Regions from separate parts of the Homo sapiens genome. Here all the other regions are linked to region 1. The links come from fine-mapping of genetic effects on gene expression. A gene starts in region 1. Each other region holds a variant in brackets. All regions are shown on one strand. Distances are between the middles of the regions.

Region 1 (2,858 bases):
CACATCCTCTGTTGGCACAAGTGTCTTCCACACTGTTCTTCTTCCCTGAGATTCCCTCCTCCCTCTGGTTAGCTCCTAATCACCTTCAGGACTCTAAACAGATGTCACCTCACCTCCTTTGAAGAAACCCTCCCTGACTGTCGGGGATGGAGGAGGTACTTGCTTGAGTGCCCAATACTGCCCTCTGCACAAGCCCATTCCATGCCATGCTCTGATACCTGTTGTCCTATCTCCAAGTGTGACCTCTCTCCTCCTAATCACCCCCCACAGAGTGGGAGAATCCTAGAGGGAAGGATCTGGCAAGGCCCTTACAGACCATCCAGTCAGCCTTCTCAACTAGACAGATGGAGAAACCAGGCCTGTGCAACAGTAATGGCCACTCTGGGCTTACGGTGTGCCAGGCACTGTCATACTAGTGATAACTAACTAGTAGCTGCCCTACTAGTTAGGTATTATCCTTAACCCATCTACCGGTAAGGAAGCTGGATCAGAGATGTCCTACATGAATTTCTGAGCAGTTTATGCCTCATTTCTTCTGTGAATTGTACACTGCCTGTGCCCGTTTTCCTACGTGAATGCTGTTTTAGTTACTGATCAGTAAGGTTTTGTGTATGTGTATACATCTAAGGTCCTCTGCCAGGCACGCTACTGCAAATAATTTTTTCTGGTTAGTTTAGTTTGGTCTAATAGTGTTGTTTTTGATACACAAGCTCTTAATATATATTTAGACAAATGTCCACCATTTCCTTGCTTTTAAGCTTGAAATGACTTCCATTATCTGAGATTTCCTTAACAAAGGAAAAAGCCTGGACCCCAAACTATCCCTTAACAAGCACAGGCTGACGCTCCCAGTGAGCCAGCCTGGTCCTAAACTCTATCTGCCACCATTTAACCCTCACGGCAACTTGCGAGGCGGCTGGTTATCACCGTGGTCGTTTTATGGTCGGGGAAGCTGAGGCCAGAGCCCGGGCAGGAGCGCACACAACCAGACGGTGGGGCGTGCGGGAGATCGGAGCGGTGTCCCTGCGGGGGCTCCGCCTGGCTCCTGGCGCTCCGCACCTCCCAGCCCTCGGCGTCCCGGCGCGCCACCACCCGGAAAAGAACGACCGCTTCCGCACTCCCCCCACCAGGGGCTGGGGCCTGCAAGGGGGACTCGAAGCCTCCCGCCGCCTCCCGCCCCTTGCCTGGCAGCGGAGGACCCAAGCAAGGGCAAAGAGTTCCAACCCAGCCAGAGCCGCACCTCTTGCAGCGACTCCGGCACCAGCGCGGGCACGATGGGCCGCTTCACGCCGCGCTGCTCCTTCTCCTTCTCGCCGCCCTTCTCCTTTCCGTTCTCCGTATCACCCTTCTCAGCCTGGGTCATTATGGCCGGAGACACCCACCAACCTCTCGCCTCAGCGCTGCAGCCACGACTGCCGGGATGGAAGGGCCACCGCGCAGGCGCACGGCCGGCTGCCCACAGTCAAGATGGCCGCCGCGGAGTCGCCCCAGAGGGCTCCGAAAAGGCGGGGGTGGGGCTGCCCGGCGCAGGGGCTGGGGGCGGGGTGTGCATGCGGATTGATTGGGTGGGTGTTGCTGTGATTAGTCCTGACTGTGTAGATGCCAGCAACATAGTACACATAGCTTTTCGAGCGCCTAGTGGGGGTCGGCTGATAACCCGCATCTTATTTCGTCCTCACAGGCATCTCTTCTCCTGGCTTCCCAGATACCATATGTACTCTTAGTTTTTCTCATATGTCTTCATGTTCAGTCCAGCCTCTGATGTTGGGGTTAGGTCTTTTCCAGGCACACTCCTTGGGTGACTATCCAGTTTCCTGGCTTTAGCAATGAATACGATTCCCAAATATATATATCCAGGATGAACCGCTCAGAGAGATCCGTACTGATAACCAGTGCCTACTTGGTCTCTCCATCTGGATTGTCTACAAGGCACTGCAAACTTAAATATGTCCAAAATTTAACTCTTGATTCCCTCCCCTCTCACTTTCACCATCTCAGTAAATGTCATTTTGATTCTTCACTTGTTGACAGCTTCTACATCCAATCCATCAGTAAATCCTGCAGTCTCTAAAATAGATCTTGAATTCATCCACTTCTCCATTCCCATGCCACTACCTAGCCCAAGCCACTATCATCTCACCTGGATGACTACAACAGCCTCTTAACTCGAACTCCTTGTCCTGTCCCCCTATGATCTGTTCTTATATAGTTGCCCACGTTGTTTTAAAATATTACGTAGTTAATACTACTATGTACCCAGCACTCCACTAAGACTTACCTCAAAAATTAGATGTCACTCATGCTTTAAACTCTAATGGTTTCCCTTTGCTCAAAGAACAGAATCTAAACTAACCACCACCTAAAGACCATATCTAGTTATTGCTACATTTCTAAGTTCACCTCACAACACTCTCCCCATTCCTTGGCATTTCCAGCTACACCTGTTTTATCTTTCTCAGACATGCCAAGCCCTTCCCGTCATCGGGCTGTTGCACTTGCTGTTCATTTTGCCTTGGATGCTCTTCCCTCAGCTGTCTCATTCTCACGTCTGAACTCAAATGTCACCTCAGGCCTTCCGCAGTTATTCTCTCATCATCCTATTCCCTTTGAAGCATGAAGCATTAGTCTGTAATTATCATGCCTGCTCACTGTCTCCCACACTAGAATGTAAGCTCCGTGAGACTTTGCCAGTTATCTTCAGCACATGGTAGGTGCCCAATAAGCATGTGATGACTAAATACTAAATAAAGAACTCTTGGAGGTAAAAATTTAATCCCCGTTTTACAGGTGAGTGAAGTGGGATAAAATGGCATAATTCACTCAAGATCATAAGCTATTGAGTAGCAAAGACAAGAGTT
Region 2 (2,858 bases), 25 kb after region 1:
CCCAGTTATTCAAGAGGCTAAGGTGGGAGGATCACTTGAGCCTGGGAGGTCAAGGCTGCAGTGAGCTGTGATTGTACCACTGCACTCCAGCCTGGATAACAGATTGAGACTCTGCCTCAAAAAAAAAAAAAAAAAAGAAAAAAAAGATTTATGGGCAAAGAAGCAAAGCAAAGCAAAGAAGCAAAGCAAGCAATGTCTAAAGAATGAAAAAGGCCAGACATGGTGGCTCATGTCTGTAATCCCAGCACTTTGGGAGGCTGAGGCAGGTGGATCACGAGGTCAGGAGATTGAGACCATCTGGGCCAATATGGTGAAACCCTGTCTCTACTAAAAATACAAAAATTAGCTGGGTGTGGTGGTGCACACCTGTAATCCCAGCTACTTGGGAGGCTGAGGCAGGAGAATCACTTTAATTTGGGAGGTGGAGATTGCAGTGAGCTGAGATCACACCACCGTACTCCAGCCTGACGACAGAATGAGATGCTGTTTAAGAAAAAGAAAAAAAAGAAAAAAAAAAGAAAGAAAGTATGACTGATTGACTGATGTTTTGACAAATAGAAATATCAATAAAGAGATCAAATTTTGTTTAAGAAGAGAGAACCAAATAGAAATTCTAGAGTTGAAAATATAGAAACTGAAATAAAAATCCACTAGAGTGGCTCAACAGCAAACTTGAGCAGGCAGATGAAACAATCAGTGAACTTGATAGATTGAGATTATCCAATCTAAGGAACATAAAGAAAAAAGAATGAAGAAAAGTGAACAGTTTTTAGAGACCTGTAGGACACCATCAGTCATACAAACATATGCATAATGGGAGTCTCAAAAGAGAGGTGGGAAAGAGGGATAAAGAATATTTGAAGAAATAATGGCCAAAAACAGTTCAAGTTTGATGAAAAATATTTGTCTATGCACCCAAGACCTAAAATAACTCCAAATAAAATAAAACCAAAGAAATCCATACCTAGATACATGATAATCAAACTGTGTTGAATCTTTAAAGCAGCAAAAGAGAAGTGACTCATCACACACAAGGAATTCTAAATAAGATTAACACGTGATTTCTCACCAGAAATCACGGAGGCCAGAAGGCAGTGGGATGATATATTCAAAGTGCTGAGAGAAAAAGATTGTGAATCAAGAATTCCATATCTAGAAAAACTATCCTTCAAAAATGAATGAGAAAATAAGACATTCCTGTATAAACATATCCTGAGAGAATTCATTGCTTTAAAATCTGCCCTACAAAAAAATACTAAAGGGATTAATGCAGACTGAAATGAGAGGACAGTAAGCAATAACTCAAATCCACATGAAAAATAAAAAGCAC[T/C]GGTGTGTTAGTTTCTGAGGGCTGCTGTAACAAATTACTACAAACTGGGTGGCTTAAAACAACAGAGATTTATTCTCTCACAGTTCTAGAGGCTAGAAATTCAAAATCTGGCAGGGACACATTTTTTCCAGGGCTCAAGGGAAGAACCCATTCCTTGCCTCTTCCAGTTTCTTATGGCTTGCCCAGAATTCCTGGGCTTATAGTTACATCAATCCAATCTCTGCCTTGTCTTCACATCACCCTTTCCTCTGCGTCTGTCTTCTCCTGTGTGTGTGTATTATAAGGACACTTGTTAGATTTAGGGCCCACCTGGATGATCTCATCTCAAAATCCTTAACTGTCTTACATCTTCAAAGATCTTTTGTTTTTTCTTTTTCAAATAAGGTAACATTTTCATAGGTTTTGGGGTTTGAGACATGGACATATTTGTAGGCGGCCACCATTTGCCCCTCTACAATCAGTAAAGGTAACTACATAGGTAAATAAAAAACACAGTGTAAGTATATTTTTGTAACTTTTTCCTCTTAACTAATTTAAAAGATAAGTGCATTAAACAATAATTATAAAATCTGTAATGATAGGCAAACAATGTAAAAAAAGGTGTAATTTATATGACAGTAACAGCACAAGGGGGGAGAAGAAACGGAACCATACAGGAGCAAAGTTTTTGTATATTTTTGAATTAAGTTAGCATTAATTTAAACTAGAGTTTTAAAAGTTAAGGTGTTAATTGTAATCCCCAGGGCTACTACTAAGAAAATAAGTTTTAAAATATGATAAAATAAGCAACAGGGGAATTAAAAGAAGTCAGTAATGGAGGAGTAGAAATCAAAAAGGCATAAGACATATAGAAAACAAATAGCAGAATGGTAGAAATAAGCTCTGCCTTATCAGTAATTACATTAAATGTAAATAAACACTTCAATTAAGAGGCAGAGATTGGCAGAAGACATTTTTAAAAATGATTTCTGTGTTTCTTACAAAAGACACATTTAGATTTAAGTACACAAATAAGTTGGCAGTAAAAGGATGGAAAAAGATATACCATGCAAACAGTAACCAAAAGAAAACTGGAACCACTATACCAATATCAGATACAATAAACCTTAAGACAAAAATTATCAGTAGAAAACAAGGATATTTGATAAGTATTATAAATCAATACACCAAAAAGGTATAAAAATTATAAACATATATGTACCCCAAAATAGACTTTAAAAGTGTATTAAGCAAATACTGATAAAAGTGAGGAAAGAAATAGACATTTCAACAACAATAATAGTTGGATAATTCAACATCCCACTTTCAATACTGGCAAGAAGACATACACAGAGATAAACAAGAGAATGAAAGACTTGAACAGCACTAAACCAACTAGACCTAACGAACCTCTCTAGAATACACCATGCCAAAACAGCAGAGCACATATCTTTTCAAGCACACATGGAACATTCTCCAGTATAGACATATGTTAGGCCATAAAGCAAGTATTAATACCTTTTAAAAGATTGGAATCATTCGAAGTATT
Region 3 (2,500 bases), 21 kb before region 1:
CCAGGTGAAAGCAGGGTCAGGACTTCCAGATCTTCTGACTGTCCCGTTTTTATTTTTACCATTGAGCCTTCTACCAGTACTGAAATGGGCAAAAGATGGCTGATAACAAATTACACTTTACCTGTGATGGTTACTCTATGCTAGTTCCTGTTTTTTAAAAAATAGTTCTTATGAGGTGTTAAGAAAAGCTTTCGCTTGGATTCATACACAGTTGACCCTTGAACAACACAGGTTTGGACTGCGCAGAGCCACTTACACCTGGATTTTTTCAATACATATATTGGAAAATTTTTTGGAGATTTGTATCACTTTGAAAAAACTTAGATGAAACTCGGATGAACTTTTCAATTAAAATATTGAAAAAAATGAAGAAAAAGGTATGTCATAAATGCAGAAAATGTATACAGATACTAGTCTACTTTATCATTTCCTACCATACCAATAGTTAACTATTTTAACTATTAAAAGTTAAAAATTTATCAAAACTTAAACACACACATACCAACTGTACATGGCACCATTCACAGTTGAGAGAAACGTGAGCATAAAGATGTGGTATTAAATCATAACTGCATACAATTAATTGCAGTGCGTACTGTCCTGCTGTGAATAATTTCCTAGCCACCTCCTGTTGCTACTGTGGTGAGCTCAAGGGTTGCAAGTATCGACTTAAAACACCCTGTGATGCTAACCATCTCCAAACGAGCAGTTCCTGTCTCCAGTAAATTACATATCACAGTAAAAAGTATCTCCAGTGGTTCTCTGGTATTTTTCGTGTTTAGTGCAATATCGTAAACCTTCAATAACACCTTAGGACCCATACGAAGTGCCACTAGTAATGCTGGCAGTGCTCCCAAGAAGCAGTGTCATGAAAAAAAGCAAAAAAAACTTTTTTTTTTCATTACAAGAAAAAAAGCCAAATTGCTTGATATGTACCATAAATTGAGGGTCTGCAGCTGTGATTGTTCACCATTTCAAGATAAATGAATCCAGCGTAAGGACCATAGTCAAAAAAGAAAAAAATTC[A/C]TGAAGCCATCACTACAGCTACACCAGCAGACATGAAAACCTTGCACATTTTGCAGAATACCTTTTAATCTTGTATTGAAAATGTAGCTTTTATGTGGGTGCAGGATTGCTGTAAGAAAGGCATATCTGTAGACTCTAATATGATTTGAGAAAAAGCAAAGTCATTATATGACAACTTAAAGCAAAAGGAAGGTGAAGCATCTAAAGCTGGAGAATTTAATGCCAGTAAAGGATGGTTTGATAATTTTTAAAAGTGGTTTGGCTTAAAAACTGTCAAGATAACAGGAGAAGCAGCTTCTGCTGACCAAGAGGCAGCAGGTGAGTTCCCGGATGCCATTAAGAAAATCACTGAGGAGAAAGGATACCTGCCTGAACAGGTTTTCAGTGCAGATGAAAGTGTCCTCTTCTGGGAAAAAAATGCTACAAAGGACATTGATTAGTAAGGAAGAGAAGCATGCATCAGGATTTAAGGCAGGAAGGGACAGGCTAACTGGACTGCTTTGTACAAATGCAATTGGGTTTATGATCAGGACTGGCCTTATCTATAAAGCTGCTAACCCCCTGGCCTTGAAGGGAAAAGATAAACACCAGCTGCCAATCTTTTGGTTGTACAATAAGAAGGCCTGGACACTGAGAAAACTTTTCTGGATTGGTTCCACTGATGCTTTGTCCCTGAAGTCAGAAGTACCTTCCCAGGAAGCGACTGCCTTTTAAAGTTCTTTTGATATTGGACAATGCCCCCAGCCACCCAGAGCCCCATGAGTTCAACACTAAAGTCCTCAGAGTGGTCTCCTTGCCCCCAAACACATCATAATTTGGCCTCTAGATTGGGAGGCCATAAGGACCTTCAAGGCTCATTACACACAGTACTTTATGGAAAGGATTGTCAACACTATGGACGAGAACACCAACAGAGAGAACAACATGGAAGTCTGGAAGAATTACATCACTGAAGATGCCATCATTGTGACAGAGCAAGCCATGAAAGCCATCAAGCCTGAAACAATAAATTCCTGCAGGAGAAAACTGTCCAGATGATGTGCATGACTTCACAGGATTTACAACAGAGCCAATCAAGGAAAGAGATTGTAGATGTGGCAAAAAAGGTGGGGGGTGAAGGGTTTCAAGATACGGATCTTGGAGAAATTCAAGAGCTAACAGATAACCACACTAGAGGAACAAAGAGAAGACAACCTGCTGGAGACGAGTGCTTCCCCATCAGTGTGAGGTGATGATGAAGACGACACAGAAGCAGCAGCATCAGAAAACAAATCGACATTAAACAATCTGGCAGGTTTCTGATTAGTCAAGACTGCTTTTCACTTCTTTTGTAACACAGACCCTTCTATGATACAAGCATTAAACCTAAAGCAAGTGGTGGAGGAAGGATTGGTACCATATACAAATATTTTTAGAAAAATGAAAAAGCAAAAAAGCCAGAAATTATGATGTCTTTCTGTAAAGTTACACTGAG

Direction of the effects. Alleles are on the strand shown, and positions count from the first base shown. SD is a standard deviation of normalised expression in the study named. Not every link is listed here.
In carriers of allele T in region 2, the expression in monocytes after LPS of the gene that starts at base 1,414 in region 1 tends to be higher than with C alone (large effect, 1.1 SD a copy in Quach 2016).

Evidence for each region. PIP is the estimated chance that this variant, and not a neighbour inherited with it, causes the effect.
Region 2: its variant is the best candidate, but not a certain one, in a credible set for the expression of ACTR8 in monocytes after LPS (Quach 2016, PIP 0.81).
Region 3: its variant is the best candidate, but not a certain one, in a credible set for the expression of ACTR8 in lung (TOPMed, PIP 0.74).

The regions. Positions count from the first base shown.
Region 1 is chr3:53,880,739-53,883,596 of GRCh38, forward strand. It overlaps ACTR8 (actin related protein 8), which reads right to left and starts at 1,414. Exons shown (of 13, transcript NM_022899.5): 1 at 1,241-1,414. The coding sequence starts at 1,363. RefSeq lists silencers at 1,041-1,150, 1,541-1,630 and an enhancer at 1,301-1,380.
Region 2 is chr3:53,905,555-53,908,412 of GRCh38, forward strand. No RefSeq gene overlaps it. Among named protein-coding and RNA genes, the nearest start is that of SELENOK, 15 kb to the left of the region's middle. The variant T/C (reference allele first, on the strand shown) is at 1,331.
Region 3 is chr3:53,860,408-53,862,907 of GRCh38, forward strand. All of the region lies in intron 10 of IL17RB (interleukin 17 receptor B), which reads left to right. It also overlaps a transcript of ACTR8 not described here. Among named protein-coding and RNA genes, the nearest start is that of IL17RB, 15 kb to the left of the region's middle. The variant A/C (reference allele first, on the strand shown) is at 1,027.